Homo sapiens: one gene and its partners. The protein of the gene in region 1 purifies or fractionates together with the protein of each later gene. This does not show direct contact. Each region holds a gene or a part of one and is shown in the gene's direction. Other genes may lie near its edges.

Region 1 (7,387 bases):
TGGCTTACACCTGTAATCCCAGCACCTTGGGAGGCTGCGGCGGGCAGATCACTTCAGCCCAGGAGTTTGAGACCAGCTTGGCGAACAAGGCAAAACCCCATCCCTGCAAAAGTTAGCAAGGCATACTGGCACACGACTGTGATCCCAGCTACTAGGGGGGCTGAGGGATGAGAATCGCTTGAGCCCAGGAGGTGAAGGCTGCGCCAGTGAGCTGAGATTGCGCCACTGCACTCCAGCCTGGGCGACAGAGTGAGACCCTGTCTCACACACACACACACACACACACACACTATATATATATATATATCAAAAGACAAAGATGAAGACAAAGATGCTTTACAATAAGCTGTCTATAGAGAAAAAGTCATCTTGGTACAATACCATTCAGCCAATGCTTTGAATCTACTTCCAAAATGGGGAAGAACAAATCCTGTTGACATGAGCTATAAACATTTCTGTGGATTACTTCACCATTGTCTTCTCTGGGGTAGTGACTAGAAATGCAGAAGTACATTAATTCATACCTTATCATAGCCTTCCAGTTCTCGAAGTTTCTTTATTTCAAAAAGATTGCCTTCCACAGCAAGCAGACAGATCTGGGAATCACTGAGGATGCTCTGGGGAAGCATGCTGAGCTCAAGACAATTCTCTTCCAGGCGAAGAATTTTAAGGCGTGGACAGCAAGATATCTTCACTGAGATCTGAGATATCTATTGAAAAACCACAAAAGAATAACAGGAAAAAGCATAAGCACTATACTGGTTACTTTTAGTACATTAAAACAAAACAAAAATCTTTACTTGACTATTTGTTCTAGTTTTCCCCTCTTTTACCACCTCCATTTTCTCACTGCCTACTCACTCCAGAAGCCTCTGTTATCTAGCTTCTGTTACTACGCCCCCACTTAAAAAAAATGCTTTTATGAAGGTCACCCATGGCTTTTTGGGAACAAAATTTTCTGATGATAAAAGCACTGTATGTTCATTATAGAAAATTTGAGAATCACAGGTTTAAAGAAAAAAGTTTACCTGGAATCCACCACCCAGAAATAACCACCATAAACATTTTGGTACATTTACTGCCAATGTTTTATGTGTACATAGATACTGACCACTTTACTACCAAATTCAAGGATCCATTGTCCTCAGTCCCTACTGCATTTAACTGTACTATCTATCCCTTCCTTAAAACCCCTTATTTTTGTCCTTTTTTGGTTTTTCTTCCTATCTTTTGGATTCTTCCTTACTTCTCTTGTTTTTATGGGCATTTTTCAAGTAGCTGTCTGTAATACTTCATATGTCATCTTCTCTCTAAACTTCTTCTAGAAAGCTCATTCATTAAAGTCCATCACTTTTGTTATGACCTCAAGATCTGTATCTATACTCTTACCTCTATTCTGCTCCCACGTTTCCAACTTTCAGTAAGATATTTCCATTTACAAGATTCACCACAGACAACTCAGCATGTCCATTCTCAATAGCACTACTGTTCCTTTAGGCCCTCAAGCTCAATACCAAGCAATTGTCTTTGACTCACCCCTTTTGCCATTTAAATACTAAAAGTCACCAAATTATTTGATTCTGCCCAGTATCATCTCAGACCATCACTTATTAGAAATCATGGGAACTTTAATAAGTTCAATAACTAGCAATGCAAGTTCTCAGACCTCATCCCAGCCCTACTGGATCAGAAACACTGAGGGTAGGGGGCTAGTGATCTCTTTAAACAAGCTTTTCTGGTTAATTCTGATGCATACTAAACTTAGAGAACCACTGAATAAAGGTACTGGCAGAGGTGAATGTGGAGCAAATCCTCAACTAATACTTGCTGCTTAATTGATTCAGTTTTTTTTTTCCCCCAAGAAGCTCTATAACATACAAGAATATCCACTTAAGGTAAAAAAACATGAGGCCAATTCCTCAAAGACAGACTGAATTTCATCATGATGTAAAATCACTACAATCTAGAAAAGTAATAACCACATGCAGCTTCTGGCCACTTTAATGGACCATGCAGATCTAGAAATACAGACACTAGAAAACTAAAGGCCATCCAGTCTCACAGTGTTTAATATTTCATCACTTGTGCCTTCATGCCTAGACAAGAATCTTTGGATTGGTTTTCCAGACAAATATTAATTGAAAGCTTCCAAAGTAATGGAAACAAATTTCAAATATTATAATTAAAGCTGTACAACAGTGAAATGGGCTATCTCCAGAAAGCCTATCACTTAATATTCTTCAGCAAAAGGAGACACACTTTGTAACAAAGATGTCAAAACCCCACACAAAACGAAAAACAAAACTGAATTACCTCTGACTCCCGACTCTGAGAACCTCAGTTTAGGCCTCATTTCCACATTATATCCCTGACATAGCTCCTGGCTAGCTGGTTAGGGGCATATATTTGAGGAGGATCTGAAGAAGTCTTCAAGATTTGTGAGACAGTAGTTTAACTTTTGAAATGATCTCTCCCTGTTACCTACCCCACCCTCCCCAAAACACCTACACAACTAACACATCCAGTGTCTCAACTAATTCCATGGCACTTTGGGCCTTGAAATTAGTTCAGCCTATAGAAGAAACCTCTCATTTAGCCTCTGATACTTAGCTCTATGATGGCAGTTTAGGAAACAAGAGGTTAACAGGTATCAGGAGACCTTAAAGCCACACATATGCTGTAGGAAAAAAAACCTTAAAGCTCTAGACCTGATTCTGGTTGAGGTTGAGTTCGATGACTTGCAGCTCTCCCACTGAGTCAGGTATACTTCGAATCTGGTTCTTAGAGAGATCCATCACATCCAGGTGCCGTAGGCTACAAAGTTGGGGAGGTAATGCTCCCAGTTGGTTCCCAGAGAGGCTCAGGGTCTTGAGGGCAGAGAGTTGCCCAAAGGTAGACGGCAGCTCTCTAAGGTGATTGTTGTTTAGGCTTAGCGTCTCTAGTTTTTTCAGATTGCATATCTCATCAGGCAGAACAGCTGGCAAAGAAAAATTTTTTTAAAACCTGAATGTGATAGAGCTGAAAACAACTTTGATGAAGTTTATAAAGACTATATGGCAGCCTGCTTCGCCTCTTGTTAATATATGTAAAACTCCCACATGTGCCATTTTTAGATATTGCATTTTACCAACATAGTCTTTAGAAGGTGAGGGTGCCATCAAAATGCCGGAGAGCATTTGTGTGTATAATGGGCTCCTTTTGTAAAGGGGCCCAAGGCACAATCCGACAGCAATTTTGTGATATTTGGAAGATCCTCCCCTTCTCATCCATCCCCCATTCCAAGTTAGGTAGCTTTGTTTACATTACATCCCCAAAATGTTCTTCTCTTTCAAGTCCAAATTAACCCAGTAACAATCATTATAACACCCAATCATTATAAGGCTTATTTTAGATGTAATTACAAGAAGTAGAAAGAAGGCTTCAAGGATTCCGGCATTCGCAACTTGAGCCCTCCTGCACGGTTTCATAACAAAAACAAAAATCAGCTTGTAAGAGAAAACCACCCCTGGTAACAGCTGATCACTAGCAAAAGCCTCCCTGGCGAGAGCCATACTCAGTTTGTTGTTGTTCAGGGAGAGGCTCTTCAGCAGAGTGAACTTTCCTATCAGCAAAGGCGGTAGGCTTTCGATCTTGTTGTTGGACAAGTCGATGGTCCTGAGATTGCTCGTCAGCTTCTGCAAGTCTGCGGGGAACTGGAGAAAGGAGTTCACAGCGTGGGGAATCCCGCACCGACTAAGTTCGCCGCCCCCGCCGTCCCTCTCCCTTTAAGTTCCCTGGTCGTGTCCCTCCCAGTCTCACCTCGGTCAGCCCTCGGTCCTTAAGCTGAAAGACACCAGTTTTCTGCGCCGTTTCCACATGAGCGCGGAGCGCACTGTTTCCCATCCTAGCGCCGCGGCTCAGGTCCCTGCGGGAAGGAAGCGCTGCTGTCACCGCCCAGTCCACCCGGTCGGCCTCCCGGCTGGGGCTCCTGCCCCAGCTCTCAACTCCCGCCGATCCCTGGCTCCTGGGGCCCGACCCAAGAGCGACAAGGAAGAAACGGAAGAACACACAGCCCGACCACCAAGCCCTGCCGCCTTTGCAGCTCTGCGGAGGCCAGGCGCCTCTGGGAGCCTACGGAAGATCAGGGAGCCCCGGACTCGCCTCCCACCGCTCAGCTGCCGTAAGGCTCCGCAGGTGAAGACCCAGGACCCGCAGTAGCCGGGATGCGCTCCCCGGCTTAGTCCCGGGCGGGAACGCCCTGTGACGTCATCGAGCCGCGCCGTGCGTTCGCCCTGCGATCCCGCTCACTCTTGGCGCCTTCGCGGAAGGTGCGTCCGAGCCATGGCCGCTGCCAACCCGTGGGACCCGGCGTCCGCGCCTAACGGCGCTGGGCTAGTGCTAGGCCACTTCATAGCTTCGGGGATGGTCAATCAGGTACGTGGGGGTGGCGGTGGTGTCATCAAGGGGGTGCCCAAGGTGGCAACAATATGGCTGTGAGTTGGTGCTGCTGGCTGTGGGAGTGGTGAGGGTCCTGGTTGGGGTCTGTACTAGAGTAATAAGAGCCCCTTCCAGGCAACAGCCGCGAACGTTCTGCCGTGGATGCTTGGAAAGCGGGGATCTGAGTAGATGGTGTTTAGGGTAGACTGTGTTTTGAGTGTCTGTAGGGTAAATTTGTCCCAGTCCAGTTTGTGGGAGATTAGACTGTTACCAGCCTTTTTTTCATCCAGTGATACTGCCTCTAGACTGTAGTGTAAGGGCGGGGATGGGAAATACGGGTCGTTCTGTCCCCTTGCGGAACAAGCATTTCCAACAACCCTCGTTTGTGGGAAGTGTTGAATCGTATTTGGGGCGGGAGGTGCTGGGTAGAGAAGAGCGCCAGAAGCTCTTTTTTGACATTTTTATTTTATTTTATTATTTATTTATTTATTTATATGAGACAGAGTCTCGCTCTAACGCCCAGGCTGGAGTGCAGTGGCGTGGTCTCGGCTCACTGCAACCTCCGCCTTCCTGGTTCAAGCGATTCTCCTGCCTCAGCCTCTGGAGTAGCTGGGACTACAGGCGCCCACCACCACACCCAGCTAATTTTTTTTTGTATGTTTAGTAGAGACGGGGTTTCACCTTGTAAGCCAGGATGGTCCCGATCTCCTGACCTCGTGATCCACCCGCCTCGGCCTCCCAAAGTGCTGGGATTACAGGCGTGAGCCACCGCGCCCGGCCTTGGCATCTTTAAAGGCAAAAAAAAAAAAAAAAAAAAAAAAGTATTGGCTAAAAAGATAAGACCTTGGAACGTGAATGGAGGAAGAGATTAATTTTGAGAAGGAGAGAAAAGAGACATTAACCCAAGGAGTCACGGAGTGGCAGTTTTAGGTTGGGCAAGAGGAGCATGTCGGAGGAAGGAGCCAACAGAGGGAGAAATTGAACATGTGAGGAAATAATGGAATGCAGTGACAGGAGGGCATGGGGCAAGTGGGATCAAGGGCATTGAGAAAAATGGGGAAATAAATTTTGATATATAGAGGAAGTTGAGAAATTTCACTAAAAAGAAAACAGAAAAGTTAAACTGATCTGTAAAAATCAGCACATATTAGCCGGCATGGTGGCGTACACCTGTAGTCCCAACTACTCCGCGGACCACATGGGTCCTGGAGGCTCAGATGGGAAGATGGCTTGAGCTTAAGAGATGGAGGTTGCAGTGAGATGCGATCGGGCCACTGCACTTAGCCTGGGCGACAGAGTGAGACCCTGTCTCAGGGAAAAAAAAAAAAAAAAAAGCACTACAAACATGATGGAAGATTTACGGAAAATACATAACTTTTTATAGTCAGAAGAGCCATTAGAGACTCTAATACCTTACAGTATTTTTTAATTTAAGAAACTAAGGCTTAGACCAAGAAACTTGCCCATGGTCACTAGACTGTTAAAGGAGAATTAGATCTTAGTACTCTCCCTTTTGACACATTGTATCCCCTCTCAAGATGAACTGTTATAAGAGGCTGTGATACTGTATTAAAAGATTTTAAGCTTTTGTTGAACACCCATTGTCTGGGTGATGGGGAGATTCAGGTGGTCCTAGTTGACTAACTTTACCAGGAGTGACCACAGCACTCTACAGTGTAATCCTTCCTCCCTTCTCTCCTGTGTTTTCTTTTTTTTTTGAGACGGAGTCTCGCTCTGTTGCCCAGGCTGGAGTGCAGTGGCACAGTCTTGGCTCACTGCAAGCTCCACCTCCTGGGTTCATGCCATTCTCCTGCCTCAGCCTCATGAGTAGCTGGGACTACAGGTGCTCACCACCTCACCCGGCTAATTTTTGTATTTTTAGTAGAAATGGGGTTTCACCATGTTAGCCAGGATGGTCTCGATCTCCTGACCTCGTGATCTGCCTGCCTCTGCCTCCCAAAGTGCTGGGATTACAGGCGTGAGCCACTGCACCCGGCCCTCTCCTGTATTTTCTTTTTCTTTTCTTTTCTTTTTTTTTTTTTTCTGAGACATAGTCTCCCTCTGTTGCCCAGGCTGGAGTGCAGTGGTGTGATCTTGGCTCACTGTACCCTCTGCCACCTGGGTTCAATCAATTCTCGTGCTCCCGAGTAGCTGGGACTACAGGCACCTGCCATCACACCTGCTAATTTTCATATTTTCAGTAGAGACGGGGTTTCACCATTTTGGCCAGGGTAGTCTCAAACTCCTGATCTCAGGTGATCTGCCTGTCTCGGCCTCCCAAAGTACTGGGAGCTGAACCCAGCCTTTTTCTTCTTATCAGGTTACCTAGTACTCTCACTTGTATTGTCCAGTTCTCCTGTCACAAAATAGTTTGGCAAACTCATAATAGAAAACATTTTTGAGGGTTCACTCCTGTAATCCCAACACTTTGGGAGGCCGAGGCGGGTGGATCACCTGAGGTCAGGAGTTTGAGATCAGCTGGGCCAACATGGTGAAACCCAGTCTCTACTACAAATACAAAAATCAGCCGGGTATAGTGGTAGGTGCCTGTAATCCCAGCTACTCGGGAAGCCGAGACATGAGAATCGCTTGAGCCCTGGAGGTGGAGATTGCAGTGAGCAAAGATCGTGCCACTGCACTCCAGCCTGGGTGACACAGTAAGACCCTGTCTCAAAAAAAAACAACCCCCCAACTTTTGGTACTTGGTATCCCTCTAAAGAGCATTGGTAGGAAATACAAATGCCTAAACCAAAGGAGTAAGGCACTGGTGACAGAATTTCAGGCATTGATGGGTGAACTCTTTTTTGGGGGTGGTGGTTGTCTTGGGGGTGTCTACTGTCTCTCAAGTAACATTAATTAGACAGTTACTGGTTTTACCTACAGTTAACATGTCCCACTCCATAGCTCCTTAAGATCCCACTCCATAGCTCCTTAAGACTTCTGACAACCTTACTACACAGCTAGTCCCAAT
Region 2 (7,238 bases), on another chromosome or scaffold:
CTGCCTGGATTCAAAAGACTCTGAGCCCATAGAAGATGGTTGAATCACCTTATGGAAGAAGCCTGGATCCCTGAATTACTATGTGGATCAGGAGAAATGTCTGATGGGATGTTCTATGAGTAAGAAATGAGAAGACTCTTCTCAAACGTGGAAGGAGCTGCTGAAACCAAAATCACAAGTCCTAGAGAAGCTTCTTATTATCTCTCAGATGGTGGATGGGTTCCAAAAAGCATCCTGAAATTATCCAGAAAAACAGAAAAGAGATTTCAGATAAAGCAAAGGGAGAGAGATGCTGACAGAAGAAGACCAAGAGGCCACAGGGGCTCTGCTCCTTCAGGATCTAAGAAAGCAGGAAGGCACCAGTACCTCCCACCAAGGCCAACAGAACAGATACCATGAGAAAGGAACCAAGAAAAGGACAAATGGTGACATGTCTCCAAAACAAGGAGACATTGAGCATAAGAAGCAGAAAGTGAGGCCAGGTGCAGTGGCTCACACCTGTAATCCCAGCACTTTGGGAGGCTGAGGCAAGTGGATCACTTGAGGTCAGGAGTTTGAGACCAGCCTGGCCAACATGGTGAAACCCCGTCTCTACTAAAAATACAAAAATTAGCCGGGTATGATGGTGCATGCCTGTAATCCTAGCTACTTGGGAGGCTGAGGCAGAGAATTGCTTGAACCCAAGAGGTAGAGGTTGCAGTGAGCCGAGATTGTGCCACTGCACTCCAGCCTGGGCGACAGAGGGAGACTCTGTCACAAAAAAAATAAATAAATAAAAGCAGAAAGTGGCCAGGTATAATGGCTCATGCCTGTAATCTCAGTGCTTTGGGAGGCCAAGGTGAGAGGACTGCTTGAGGCCAGGAGTTTGAGACCAGCCTGGGCCACATAGCGAGACCCCGTCTCTACAAAAAATTAAAACTGAAAAAAATCTAGCTGGGAGAATTGGCTCAAGTCCCAGCTACTAAGGAGGCTGAGGCAGGAGGATCACTTAAGCCCAGGAGTTCCAGCATGTGATGAGCCGTGATCGGGCCATGGCTCCAGCCTGGGCAACAGAGTGAGGTCCCATCTCACAAACAAACAAACAAACAAACGAGAAAGCCCAGGTAGCAATGAGAATGAGACTTGCCCAGACAGGCACCCCGGGTGACTGCTCCTGGGGGTGCAGGCCATCCATTGTCCTTTGGTGGTGTCTCAGTCCAAAGGCAATTGTGACCAAATCACAGGGACAGATCAAGTCTTCTCAAAGCAGAGACTGGTGAAACTTTCCAAATCATGGCGGTAGGGCACGCCTTGCATGTTACTGAGAACTTCCTCCTCTCTCTTGACTTTGCAGTCTGAGACCCGGTCATATCTACATGTGTGTTTGGGGCAGGATGGGCAGAGACATAGCAGGAAAGGAAGTCACAGGGGTGTGTCCTACCCCAGCCAGGAAGCAGGCAGCAGGGACCGCTGTGGGGCATGCCTGGAGGTTCTTCACCATCTGCTGAGCACCAGCATAACAATGGGACATTGGGACTGTCCACCTGCACTGTGCTGTTACCACTAACCAGACAACTGGCTTTCGTGGGATTCACCCTGGGTCCCTGGGGCAGAAAGCACCCTAAGTGCTCAGGGCCTTCCTCTGAAGGGGTCACTTTTTCCTTCATTGTCTTGGGTGATGTAACAAGCTGTGCCAGACTGGAGGAAGTGAGACCAGGTGCCTGCAGTGAGCTACTGAGACGCAGGTGACAGTCACAGCAGTTGCATTATCAGGGAGTTTCCTATGGTCATCTGAACTTCGAGGGAGGTTTTCTGGGGCCGGGCATTCCTTCCTCATTCCCATTTACCTAAATTGGCCCATCCTTGTCTGGTAGGTCAGCACCCAGCAGAGGCTTCTCCCCATGCACAGCACTGTGAGGTTCAGGCACCTGGGCACAGTAACCACAGTGATTCCTGGAAGCTGGTGGGCATGCTATCCTGGGGCCATCTGAACTGGGAAAAGCTGTGTGAGTTCTTGGGGGCCAGCTTGTAGCCTTTTTGGCTGGGGCCAGGTTGAAGGTCTTCCTGGGAACCAGAGTCAAGAGCGGCCACTTACATTAAGCGGATAAAGCCCACGACTTTCTTGAGCTGCTTGACAGCTGTACCAAAAAGGCACAAACCCATTGAGGATATTATGAAACATGAATACAGATGATTATTTTATTTTGGTTTGGTTTTGTTTTGGCTTTGAGACAGGGTCACCCAGGCTGGAGTGCAGTGGTGCCATCATAGCTCACTGAAGCCTCAACCTCCCAGGCTCAACTGATCCTCCTGTTTCAACCCCCCAAGTAGATGGGACTACAAGCGTGCACCACCACGCCTGGCTAATTTTTTTTAATTTTTAATAGAGACAAGGTTTTGCTGTGGTGCCCAGGTGGGTCTCAAATTCCTAGCCTCAAACATTCCTCCCACCTCAACCGCCCGAAGTGCTGGGATTACAGGCATGAGCCACCACGCCCAGCCATTGCCTTATAATTTTTTACTGATGTCAGATATTGTTAATTTTACAGTGTTGGATGCTGGATTTTTTTTAATCTCTATAAATATTCTTGAATTTTGTTCTGGAATGCAGCTAAATAATAGCTTGATCCTTTCGGGCCTTGCTTTTAAGCATGGTTGGTTAGTCAGCATCAGAGAAGTATTTCATCTAGGGCAGGGGCAGGGGTCTCCAAACCCCAAGCCGTGAACCAATACAAGTCCATGGCCTGTTAGAAACCAGGCTGCACAGCAGGAGGTGAGTGGCGTATGGGTGAGCATCACTGCCTGAGCTCCACCTCCTGCCAGATCAGGAGCGGCATTAGATTCTTACAGGAGCGCAAACCCTATTGTGAACTGTGCATACGAAGGATCTAGATTGCGCACTCCTTATGAGAATCTAATGCTTAGGCGGGGCATGGTGGCTCACACCTGTAATGCTAGCACTTTGGGAGGCTGAGATGGGCTGATCACTTAAGGTCAGGAGTTCAAGACCAGCCTGGCCAACATGGTGAAACCCCGTCTCTACTAAAAATACAAAAATTAGCTGGGCATGGTAGCGGGCGCCTGTAATCCCAGCTACTCAGGAGGCTGAGGCAGTAGAATCGCTTGAACCCCGGAGGCAAAGATTGCGCTGAGCCGAGATCGGGCCACTGCACTCCAGCCTGGGTGAAAGAGGGAGACTTCACCTCAAAAAAAAAAACAGGGAAGAAAAAAAAAAAGAGAGAGAGAGACAGAGAATATAATGCCTCACGACCTGAAGTGGAACAGTTTCATCCCGAAACCATCCACTGCTCCCACCCTCCATCCCCCAGACTGTGGAAAAATTGTCTTCCATGAAACCAGTCCCTGATGCTCAAAAGGTTGGGGACTGCTGGTCTAGCGCAGACCTCTCACACCTGCTGTGTCCCAAATTGACCCACCCCTGCTGCTTATTTTTACCACCCCTACCTGGTGGTGCGTCTGTCTCCCCACTCAACTGTGAGCTCCGTACAATAGGGACCAGGGCTGTTGTGGTCACCATGGTGTCCCCAGCATCACCCAGCACAGGGTCAGCTCCCTGAGTTTATGGAATGGTAAGCACGAATGAATGGGAAAACGCATGCCAGGGAAATGTTAGGGTCATGCTCTCTGCCCCTACCCTCCACTCAGACATGAGACACCTGTTTCTGAAATCAAAGAGCAGTAAGTCCAGGATCTCATTGCCTGGTTCCAGTCCTCCTAGGACGCAAGTCCCATTTTGTCAAGAAAATAAAGGGGGTGAGCGTGGTGGCTCACGCCTGTAATCCCAACATTTTGGGAGGCCGAGGCGGGAGGATCGCTTGAGCCCAGGAGTTCAAGAGCCCAGAAGCTGAGACTAGCCTGGGCAACAAGTGAGATCCCATCTCTATTAAAATAAAAGTGTTTAGTTAAAAGAAGAAAAAGAAAATAAATGGAAGCATCAAGGACTGTTTTGCCTCTTTCGGGTTAGCTGGTAGTGAGCGGGAGAACGAGGGAAGGCGGGCGGGGCTGCAGTCTCTCCACGCCCTTTTCATTTCCACTCAAGGAGACCTACCTGGGAAGAGTGAGCGCTGCAAGACCCAGCCTGACCGCGCTAAGATTACTATGCAGCGCCCGAGCCCGCTGTCTGCCCGGCAACCGATGACGTCACTGTTGGCGCGCCCGTGACGTCAGAGGCGGGCGCCACACTTGAAGAGGCTGAGGGAGGCGGTGTCGCCGCCGCGGCGCTGTCATGGAGCTAGCGCAGGAAGCGCGGGAACTGGGTTGCTGGGCGGTCGAAGAGATGGGGGTGCCCGTGGCGGCCCGGGCCCCGGAATCGACGCTGCGCAGGTGAGGACCGCTCCTGGAGTGAGGACACCCCACCCTGGAGATTGAGTCTCCGGGAGTGAGAACTCCACCCCTCATTGAGGACTCGACTCCCCCCAATTCCCCATCGAGAGTGACCCGACTTACTGAGGGCTCCCTACCCTGGGAGGCTCCCCAGAGTGAGGTCCCTAGCACTGGTGAGGATCCTCCACGAGTTAGCTAAGACCTCGCTCCTTATGGAAATAGGATCTCCAGAGTGAGGCTGTCCCCGCAGCACCTCCCCTCCCTCCCTTAACCTAACCAAGAAGGACACTCAGGAGTTAGCCGTGGCCACCCCATCGGGGATTGAAGCTGTAGGAGTGATGCCCCACGTCTGGTCATGAGATGGCACTTCCTGGCAGTACATCCCCCACCTCCACCTCTGGATGTGACTGGGATAACCCACTCCCAGGAGAAAGGGAGCACCCGCCTCTCCCGCGCTCCCCCACCACCCGCCTTCCCAGGGAATGAGAATAACACCACACTTAGTGCAAACATCCAGTCCCTACAAAAAAAATGTTTTACCAATTAGCCGGGTGTAGTGGTGCCTGCCTGTAGTCCTAGCTACTCTGGAGGCTGAGGTGGGAGGATCGCATGAGCCCAGGAGGTTGAGGCTGCAAGGAGCTATGATCGTACCACTGCGACAGAGCGAGACTGTCTCTTAAAAAAAAAAAAAAAAAAAAGGCAAAAAAAAGTTTGGGCCTTCCCTCCTCAAGAAGTGAGAACTCCCTAGTAAAAACTCCCTACCACCATCACCCTAGGAATGAGGATCCCACACCCTGTGTGCTGCCCCAGGCATATGCTTACACACTGTCCCCACAGGCTGTGTCTGGGCCAGGGGGCTGACATCTGGGCCTACATCTTGCAGCATGTGCACAGTCAGAGGTAAGCTGGGCTAGAGCAGGGGAGGGGGCACAGGTGAGGCCCATAGTAACTCCTCTTTCTGCCTCTGCACTGTAGGACTGTCAAGAAGATCCGGGGAAACCTACTCTGGTAACTGCTTCTTAAAGCTATCCCCTCCTGTCTTCCCCACTCCCATTTAGCCCTGTCCCCACCACAGCATCACACCTATTGCCCTCCCCCCTAGAAGCCCCACTCATCCGCTGACTCTGGCCTCGTTTTCCTAGGTATGGCCACCAGGACAGTCCACAGGTGAGAAGCATATGCTACAAGATTCTCTTTCATCCGAAAAATGACTTGTAGATCTTCTGCTCTAAGCCCAACCAGGTGCTGGGTGATGCTGGGGACAATGGGTCACAAGACAGCCTTGATCTCCATCCTCATAGGGCTTAAAGTCCAGTGGAAACAGCATTAGCTCAGCCAGGTGCAGTGGCTCACACCTGTAATCCCAGCACTTTGGGAGGCTCACCTGAGGCCTCATCTCAGGTGATGAGATCACCTGAGGGCTCCAGGAAGCGATCAGTACTGGGACAAAGATGTGGTTTGGGAGGCGGATCACCTGAGGTCAGGAGTTCGAGACCAGCCTGGCCAACACGGTGAAGCCCTGTCTCTAATAAAAATAAAAAATTAGCCAGGCGTGGTGGCACACGCCTGTAATCCTAGCTACTTGGGAGGCTGAGGCAGGAGAATCGCTTGAACCTGGGAGGCAGAGGTTGCAGTGAGCTGAGATCGCACTACTGCACTCCAGCCTGGGCAATAGAGCGAGACTCTATCTCAAAAAAAGAAAAAATAAATAAAGAGCATTAATTAGCTGGGCGCAGAGAGGTGGGACCTGGATATGTGGCATCAAAGCTGGTGAGAAGAGATGATGGGACAGGTATGGGAGAGATGCTGAGGCCAGTGTGGGACCCAATGGGTGCAAGGGGCTCATATGACACCTAAGGGGAGGCTTCCAGGAGGCCTTGGGACTTCTAGGTGCAGGGCTCCGGGAAGAGATCAGTACTGGGACAAAGATGTGGTTGTCACCAGCACAGACAGGAAACAGGCTGGAAGTGTGGGTAAGACAATCCTAGGAGGAAGGAGGGAGGGAGCCAATACCCTAATGCTTCTGTGTCAGACACAGAAACTGCTGAGCAAAAACCCTCTGCCACCAGTTGAGGAGCCTGGTACCCCCAAAAGACAGGCCAGGCTGAGCCCCGATCAGACCATCTGACCCTGAATCTGATCCTCCCAGGTCCGTCGGAAGTTAGAGCTGGAAGCTGCTGTGACCCGCCTGCGGGCAGAAATCCAGGAACTCGACCAGAGCCTGGAGCTGATGGAGCGAGACACTGAGGCTCAGGGTGAGCCATGGGGCCAGAAGATGGGCACCAGAATGTGGGGCGGGAAAGGTGCTGATGGCCACCCCTGTTCCTCCCACAGACACGGCCATGGAGCAGGCACGTCAGCACACTCAAGACACCCAGCGTCGAGCTCTCCTCCTCCGGGCCCAAGCTGGGGCCATGCGAAGACAGCAGCATACGCTCCGAGATCCCATGCAGCGGCTGCAGAATCAACTGAGGCGCCTGCAGGACATGGAGAGGTGGGCCTCAGGGACCCACCCTCACCAGGCTGGGTGGCCAGACATTCTCTTAGAGACCTCAGGGCTCTGCCCTGATCCCTTCTTGGGTTCCAGAATTCTGGAACCATTAGGATGGAATGTCCATGAGGCCAGGAGGTTTTGTCATCTCAGTCACCTGTATTTTCAGTGCCTAGAATGATACCACCTGTATACCTAGAACACCAGCCCTGGGGAAACAGCCACAAACAGAGAACATGTCCCTGCCCTCCTGGAGCTTATGCTGTGACACAGAGAAGACAGATAGTAAAGTAGGAACCAAACAGACCCTATCATTTCTGGTAGAGATGAGTGCTGTGAAGAAAAGCCTATCATAGAAGGGAGAGGGAGATGCTGCCCTAGCGAGGGTGGTCAGCGAAGGCCTCTGAGGAGGGGACATTGAGTT
Region 3 (7,965 bases), on another chromosome or scaffold:
GAAGTTAAATGACAACAGACACTTGTGTTCTGTGTCAGGGAGACACAGAGAGTGATGAGGACTGTGGCGAACTGGAGGGAGCTTGTTGCCCATCTTAAGATGGTAGCTTCCACATACCTCTATTGTTGTCGTATTATTTTCCTACTGTTACTGTAACAAATTGTAATAAAAATCATAGCTTAAAACAACACACATTTGTTATCTGCCAGGGCTGGAGTTCAGAAGTCCAAAATGAGCCAGGTGGGCTGGGCATGGTGAATCATGCCTGTAATCCCAGCACTCAGGGAGGCTGAGGCAGGCAGATCACTTGAGCTCACGAGTTCAAGACCAGCCTGGGCAACATGGTGAAACCCCATCTCTACTAATAATACAAAAAAAAAAAAAACTAGCCAGGCGTGGTGGTGCACACCTGTAGTCCCAACTACTCAGGAGACTGTGGTGGAAGGATGGCTAGAGGCCGGGAGGTGGAGGTTGCAGCGAGCCAAGATTGCGTCACTGCACTCCAGCCTGGGTGATAGAGCCAGACCTTGTGTCAAACAAAAACAAAAACAAACACAAAACAAAACAAAACAAACAAAATGAGGCCAGGTATGGTGGCACATGCCTGTAATCCTAGCACTTTGAGAGGCCAAGGCAGGTGGATTACCTGAGGTCAGGAGTTCGAGACCAGCCTGTCCAACATGGTGAAATCCTATCTCTACTAAAACTACAAAAATTAGCCAGGCATGCTGTGCACCTGTAATCCCAGCTACTCGGGACTTTGAGGCAGCAGAATCGCTTGAACCTGGTAGGTGGAGGTTGCATTGCACTGTGAGCTGAGATCACACTACTGCACTCCAGCCTGGGTGACACAGAGAGACTGTCTCAAAAAAAAAAAAAAAAAAAAAAACACCCAAAATGGGCCAGGTGACTCATGCCTGTAATCTCAGCAGTTTGGGAGGCCAAGGCAGGAGAAGAGCTTATGGCTAGGAGCTCTAGACCAGCTTGGGCAACACAGCAAGACCCCATATCTATAAAATATATATATATAGTGTGTGTATATATATATTTTTTTTTTGAGACAGTTTCGCTCTTGTTGCCCAGGCTGGAGTGCAATGGCACAATCTTGGCTCACCACAACTTCTGCCTCCCTGGTTCAAGCGATTCTCCTGCCTCAGCACTGCAATCCAGCCTGGGCAAGAGAGCAAGATCCTGTCTTCCTGTCTCTTTTTTTTTTTTTTTTTTTTTTTTTGAGACAGTGTCTCTCACTATTGCCCAGGCTGGAGTGCAATGGTGCAATCTTGGCTCACTGCAACATCTGCCTCCCAGGTTCACACGATTCTCCTGCCTCAGCCTCCTGAGTAGCTGGGATTACAGGTGCACACCACCATACCTGGCTAATTTTTTGTATTTTTGGTAGAGACGGGGTTTCACTATGTTGGTCAGGCTGGTCTTGAACTTCTGACCTCGTGATCCACCTGCCTCGGCCTCCCAAAGTGCTGGAATTACATGCCCGGCCAAGATCCTGCCTCAAAAAAAAAAAAAAAAAAAAAGGCTGGGCGCAGTGGCTCACACCTGTAGTCCCAGCATTTTGGGAGGCTGAGGTGGGTGGATCACGAGGTCAGGAGATCGAGACCATCCTGGCTAACACTGTGAAACCCCATCTCTACTAAAAATACAAAATTAGCCAGGAGTGGTGGGACATGCCTGTAGTCCCAGCTACTCGGGAGGCTGAGGCAGGAGAATTGCTTGAACCCGGGAGGTGGAGCTTGCAGTGAGCCGAGATCGCGCCACTGTACTCCAGCCTGGGCAACAGTGAGACTCCATCTTAAAAAAAAAAAAAAAAAAAAGCCAAAATGGGTCTTACAGAACTGAAATGAAGGTGTTGGCCAGGTTGCCTTCCTTCTGGAAATTCTAGGGGAGAATCTATTCCTCGACTTTTCCATCTTCTAGAGGCTGCCCATATTCTTTTACTCATGGCCCCTATCCCTCTTCAAAGCCAACAATCACATCATTCTGACCTCTACTTACTTTTGACCTCTTCTTTATTTTATAATTTTTATTTTTTGGTAGAGACAGGGTCTCACTATGTTGCCCAAGCTGGTCTCAAACTGCCGACCTCAAGTGATCCTCCCACCTCAGCCTCCTAAAGTGTTGGGATTACTGGCATGAGCACTGCACCAGGTCTGACCTCTTCTTTGACTCTGACCCTCCTGCCTCCTTCTTTCACTTATAAGGACCCTTGAAATTACACTGGGCCTACCTGGGATAATCCAGGATCATCTCCCTATCTCAAGATCTTTACCTTAATAACATCTTCAAAGTATTTTGCCATGTAAGGTAACAGTCACAGGTCCTGGAGATGAGGATGTGGACATCTTTATGGGGTAGCATTCTTCTGCCTACCATCTCTGAAGTGAAACAATTCTTCTGACACACACTTAGCAAATGCTTACCAGGTGTGCTAAGCACTATGCTAGGAGCTAGAAACAAAGATGAATAAGACACAGTCCTTACCTCCAATAGTTTGCTATCTATAATATTAAGATGGACATGTACACAAATAACTATAGCATGATGTGCTATATGCACTAAAATAAATGTCACAGCTACTTACACAGTGCCTTGATGTGAATATGTACATCTCTAAATTCATCTGATATTCACAATCTGAAGTTGTTATCCCGGTTTTACAAATGAAGAATCTGCACCTGAAGGTCAAAGAGGTTTAGAGTTTTTCCTAAGATAGCTCAAGTCTCTTACTATGTTCATTCTGCTAGGATAGGAGAGCACAAGGAAAAAGAGGTTCAGGGAGGGTCTGCAACCTACTGCCATGTGTCCTATAGTCACCACGGCTCCTTTCTTTGTAGGGACCATGACCTTATTCCCCAAAGAAGCCTCATTATACGCCCCTGTCAGTTTTCTTTTTATGAATGAGTCTTGTTCTCCCAATCAGATGGCAAGTCTACTGGGAAGAAAGACCTTGTCATATTTCACTATATTCCTTTCCATGCCTTGCCTATTTTGTTGATAGAGAGTTGCCATCACTAGTTCTTTCATGGTATTATGTTGTGTTGTCAGGTGATGGGGGAGGGAGGGGTGAATCCTTTCCAAGTGATGTAGAGCCAGGAAGACAGGTTTCTTAAGATCTGCAAACCAGCAGCACCTGGGGCACTGCCAGATGACTTTCCCCAGTGAAGGGAGACAATTAGAAAATGCAAGGCAGGCTGGGGTGGTTGCTCAGGCCTGTAATCCCAGCACTTTGGGAGGTTGAGGCGGGTGGATCGCTTGAGCTCAGGAGTTCAAGACAAATCTGGACAATATGGCGAGACCTTGTCTCTACTAAAAATACAAAAAATAAGGCCGGGTGTGGGGGCTCACACCTGTAATCCCAGCACTTTGGGAGGCTGAAGCAGGTGGATCATCTAAGGTCAGGAGTTGGAGACCAGCCTGACCAACATGGTGAAACCCCGTCTCTACTAAAAATACAAAAATCATCCAGGCATCCATGCCTGTAATCCCAGCTACTCCAGAGGCTGAGGCAGGAGAATCGCTAGAACCCGCGAGGCAGGTGTTGAGGTGAGCCGAAATCGTGCCATTGCACTCCAGCCTGGGCAACAAGAGCGAAACTCCATCTCAAAAATAGATAAATAAATAAAATAAGCTGGGCATGGTGTTGGTGCACGCCTGTGGTCTCAGCTACTGAGGAGGCTGAGGTGGAAGGATGAGGTAGAAGGATGGCCTTGAGCCGGGAGATGGAGGTTGCAATGAGCTGAGATTGCACCACTGCACTCTAGCCTGGGTGACACAGCAAGACACTGACTCAAAAGAGAGAGAGAGAGAGAGAAAGAGAAAGCAGAAGTAGCTTGAAAAGATGGGGTGGAGAGAACGGAATGAAATGTAGAAAGAAGGGCTTCTGCGGAGACCAGGGGCTGAGTGCTGAGACCATTAAGGTGCGGGTTGCAGATCCTGCTCTTGGGTTAGAGACAGAAGAGACCAAGAGTCAGAATCATCCAAGATATGAGAATCTCGATTTTCTTCTTTTCTCTTCAGAGGCAACAGACATTTTGATAGCTTACAACAATGTTTCCACTATGACATCACTGTCTCCTTTTCACCCACGAAAATGTCAAGGACTCAGTGAGGTTAAGTCACTTGCTCAAGGTCACACAGGGTAGCCTGGAGGAGAATCCAGGTCCTGAGGTCCCCCGGTCAGCGCTCCCGCAGTTCTGGCAGCAGGGGAGTGGGCAGGTGCCCTCAGCGAGGGCATCATAGTGACTGCGCTGATGACAGCGCCACTGACCCGCGGGCGGCCGGCGAGCCGCGGCAGATTCCGGGGTCGGCCCCGGCAGACAGGCTGCGGGGCTCGACTCTGCGGGAGCGCCTAAGGCATTGGCAATCTGGGGCTCAGGCTGTGCAGTTCTGGGTCCTCGGCCGCCCACAGGCGTCGGCGAAAGGCTGCCGCCCCGGCCGGGGACCAGGAAGCGTCAGGCAGCTGGCAAGGGCTCCCCGGGGACGCGCCACAGCCTCACAGCCGGCCCGAGTCTCCTGGGAGGCAGGGCTGGAAGGGCAGGGGTGAAGGCCAGCTGTGGCCGCTTGGGAAGGACCGCCTCGCCTGCTCCCGACCTAAGTCAGAACACCTGGATGACCGGTGCCTCCAGGACGCAGGTGCAGGTGAGACTCGCCCTGCCACAGCACCCTGCATCTCCGCGGAGGCCCTCGGGAGCCCAGCGTGTCTGCTCAAAACGAGGAAAGAATGGTTAAAGCCCGAATCGCGACTCTTAATCCCAGCGGGACAGGTGAGGGACCCCCGCGCAGCTTGGGGAGGGTACCAGGCCAGGCTCCGCCCCTCGGGGGGGCCGCTTACCCTCCCGGGAGGCGTGGCCTGCGGGCCGCCCAGCCTCTAGTGGGCGAGCGGGGAACGCGGGCCCCGCCCCCCCCCCGCCTATAAGGGCGGTGCGGCACTGCAGCTAGCGCAGTTCTCACTGAGACCTGTCACCCCGACTCAACGTGAGACGCACCGCCCGGACTCACCATGGTGAGTGCGGCCCGGCCGGGGTCGCGCCTGTCCCCTAATTGCCCCTCTCCTTTGGGGGACACTTCTTCCAGGCATGCTCGGGGACCTCCACCGGGCGTTCCGGGTCTCCAGGAGGTGCGAGGGTTTTGCATCCTCCCTCCCCAACCCCCTCCTGGTGACTTTGGCCGAGCCGTATAGTTCACCTTCGGTGGCTGGGGTTGGGGCTTGGGGTGGAGTGCGACTCTTCAGTAACAGAGAGGAACCCTTCCTGGCACTCTGCTCCTGCCTTACGAGCATTTGTGTCCCGACTCTGTATGAGAGTCACGCGGGCCCGCGCCCCGTCCTTTCCGCGGGCAAAAGAAGACGGGTTTGGCTGCCCTCTTACATCCCCAGTCCCTGGTCCTCAGCACTGACCGAGCACGTGCTTGGCGCTAGAAGGTGGAAGGGGTCAGGTTACCTGGTGCCGCATCCCCCTTTCCTCTGTGTATGCATTCCAACTATCCACAGAACCACCCCCCCCCCGTGACTCAGCACCCCGCGTCTGAGCTGAGAGGGTTGGTGGGAACGGGGTTCGGCCTCCTGAAGCGAGCTGGCCCTCTCCAGCCGAAGCCCGGGTGCGCGGATGGGCAGAGACAGCTGGCGCTGAGCACTGCGCGGGCCGAGGCCAGGTTGGGGGGAGGGGAGAGAGGTGCATGTAGGGGGTGGTATTTATAGCCCAGGAGCGGGGGCCGAAACCCAATCCCCGCTTTGGGCTGGGAAATAACTGTAAAGACTCCAGAGGGAGAGCGGATGTAGGGCTGGGCTGCAGGATGGCGCCCATCCTGCCCGGGACAAGGCGGGTCACCTCTGGGGCCTCACCGCAGGTTCCACTTCCTTTCTGGGTATTTGGAAACCGTCACCCCGCCATTTCGGTGTGGGAAGAGCGCGCGGGCCCTGCCGGACTTTAGTGCTTTAGGGGTTAATTTCGGGCTGACAGGGACGGAGCCTAAGGCAGTGAGCGCCCCAGTACCCTCAAACCTTATTGCTGGCCCCTGCTGTCTGAGCTTACAAGCATTACCGCCGCTATTTCCGTGCGGGCTGACACGGGAGATGAAAGTGGTGAAGACACCCAGGGTGCGGGGGTGGAGGTGGGGAGAGGAGCCAGATGGGATTGATCCCCAGAGCCAGATGGGATTTAAAGGTGAGGGAGGAGGGCATCCTGATGGCGTGTGGTCAGTTGATGCCAGATTGGATGGCTGAGACACCTCTGCAGCTTACAGGAAAGAAAGAGGGAAAGGGTTCTATGAATTCTAGCTGTTCATACTCAAAGCAAATAATTAATCAAGTGGGGGGGGGGCCTCTAGCTGTAAACCCATACCTCTAGGAAACCTTTTGTCATGTGGAGCCACAGTGCTCACTTGACAGATTCCCCACTGAGAAGTGGGCTAAGAGGTTGGCCTGCATTGCTGGGTGCCTCCAGGTGGGGAGTCCTGTACCTGGGAGCCCGGGCAGGCTGCTACTCTCTTCTCACCTCTGCCCAGCCCCAACCCTCCACTCTTGCCAACTGAGTCATCCTAGCTGGTAGATGATAGGGTGGAAGAGAGACTCGCAAGGTGAGGACTTGTGGATGTGGGGCTCATGCTGTGTCCCCTCTCTCTATCCCTCAGCGTGAATGCATCTCAGTCCACGTGGGGCAGGCAGGTGTCCAGATGGGCAATGCCTGCTGGGAGCTCTATTGCTTGGAACATGGGATTCAGCCTGATGGGCAGATGCCCAGTGACAAGACCATTGGTGGAGGGGACGACTCCTTCACCACCTTCTTCTGTGAAACTGGTGCTGGAAAACACGTACCCCGGGCAGTTTTTGTGGATCTGGAGCCTACGGTCATTGGTGAGAGGAAGTGGGGACAAAATTGAAGGGGGTGGAGCATGACTCAAAGCTTCTCCCTGGAGAGAGAGGGTATTTAGACCAGGCATTCCTAGCCCTGAAAATTCCTAGCCGTACTTGAAGCTGCAGAAGGCAAGCTGATCTGAGACTGGCCTGGGCAGCTGGTCTGGGTTTCTCTCACACTCTGGTATCTCAGGCTGGCAGGAGGATGAGTCCTTCCATGCATCTGGCCACAGCTACCACCCTGGGGGAGGAAGGTCCCTGCTGAGCATAGCTTTGTGGTTTTTGCCCTTCCAGATGAGATCCGAAATGGCCCATACCGACAGCTCTTCCACCCAGAGCAGCTCATCACTGGGAAAGAGGATGCTGCCAACAACTATGCCCGTGGTCACTATACCATTGGCAAGGAGATCATTGACCCAGTGCTGGATCGGATCCGCAAGCTGGTGAGAGTGTGTCTTGGGAGGGAGGGAACTTTTGAGACTGTGCTAATGGTCAGGAATATTTTTTTTCAGATCCTTTCAGGAGGTCATCTCTAACTATACATGGTCTCGAGTGTGGTGCTGCTATGGCATCCTCAGTATTTGCCCTGACTGCTGATGTATCTTACGCTTTATGGAGCCAGGTGATAGAGTCCCTCAGGCCCCTCCCCTACCTAAACTGTTCTTTCTCGTTCTTGCCTTTCAGTCTGACCAGTGCACAGGACTTCAGGGCTTCCTGGTGTTCCACAGCTTTGGTGGGGGCACTGGCTCTGGCTTCACCTCACTCCTGATGGAGCGGCTCTCTGTTGACTATGGCAAGAAATCCAAGCTGGAATTCTCCATCTACCCAGCCCCCCAGGTGTCTACAGCCGTGGTCGAGCCCTACAACTCTATCCTGACCACCCACACCACCCTGGAGCACTCAGACTGTGCCTTCATGGTGGACAACGAAGCAATCTATGACATCTGCCGCCGCAACCTAGACATCGAGCGCCCAACCTACACCAACCTCAATCGCCTCATTAGCCAAATTGTCTCCTCCATCACAGCTTCTCTGCGCTTTGACGGGGCCCTCAATGTGGACCTGACAGAGTTCCAGACCAACCTGGTGCCCTACCCTCG

Evidence for each region.
Region 2: the proteins of HAUS2 (region 1) and HAUS5 purify together in Homo sapiens (affinity purification with mass spectrometry; 5 studies listed by BioGRID and IntAct, with this or other methods). This does not show direct contact.
Region 3: the proteins of HAUS2 (region 1) and TUBA4A purify together in Homo sapiens (affinity purification with mass spectrometry; 2 studies listed by BioGRID and IntAct, with this or other methods). This does not show direct contact.

Annotation. Positions count from the first base shown.
Region 1 is NC_000015.10:42,544,553-42,551,939, forward strand, and holds the start of HAUS2 (HAUS augmin-like complex subunit 2), read left to right. Parts: upstream 1-4,285; 5' UTR 4,286-4,320; coding exon 4,321-4,413; intron 4,414-7,387. Other genes in the region: LRRC57 (leucine-rich repeat-containing protein 57), read right to left, coding at 525-710, 2,709-2,977, 3,554-3,692, 3,799-3,882.
Region 2 is NC_000019.10:35,608,570-35,615,807, forward strand, and holds the start of HAUS5 (HAUS augmin-like complex subunit 5), read left to right. Parts: upstream 1-4,165; 5' UTR 4,166-4,225; coding exon 4,226-4,323; intron 4,324-5,160; coding exon 5,161-5,223; intron 5,224-5,298; coding exon 5,299-5,331; intron 5,332-5,465; coding exon 5,466-5,490; exon of another isoform or gene 5,491-5,565; intron 5,566-6,472; coding exon 6,473-6,578; intron 6,579-6,657; coding exon 6,658-6,817; intron 6,818-7,238.
Region 3 is NC_000002.12:219,250,908-219,258,872, reverse strand, and holds the start of TUBA4A (tubulin alpha-4A chain), read left to right. Parts: upstream 1-4,954; 5' UTR 4,955-5,014; coding exon 5,015-5,017; intron 5,018-5,453; coding exon of another isoform or gene 5,454-5,465; exon of another isoform or gene 5,466-5,630; intron 5,631-6,642; coding exon 6,643-6,865; intron 6,866-7,159; coding exon 7,160-7,308; intron 7,309-7,549; coding exon 7,550-7,965. Other genes in the region: TUBA4B (tubulin-like protein alpha-4B), read right to left, coding at 5,454-5,465. UniProt on the Homo sapiens protein: Tubulin is the major constituent of microtubules, a cylinder consisting of laterally associated linear protofilaments composed of alpha- and beta-tubulin heterodimers.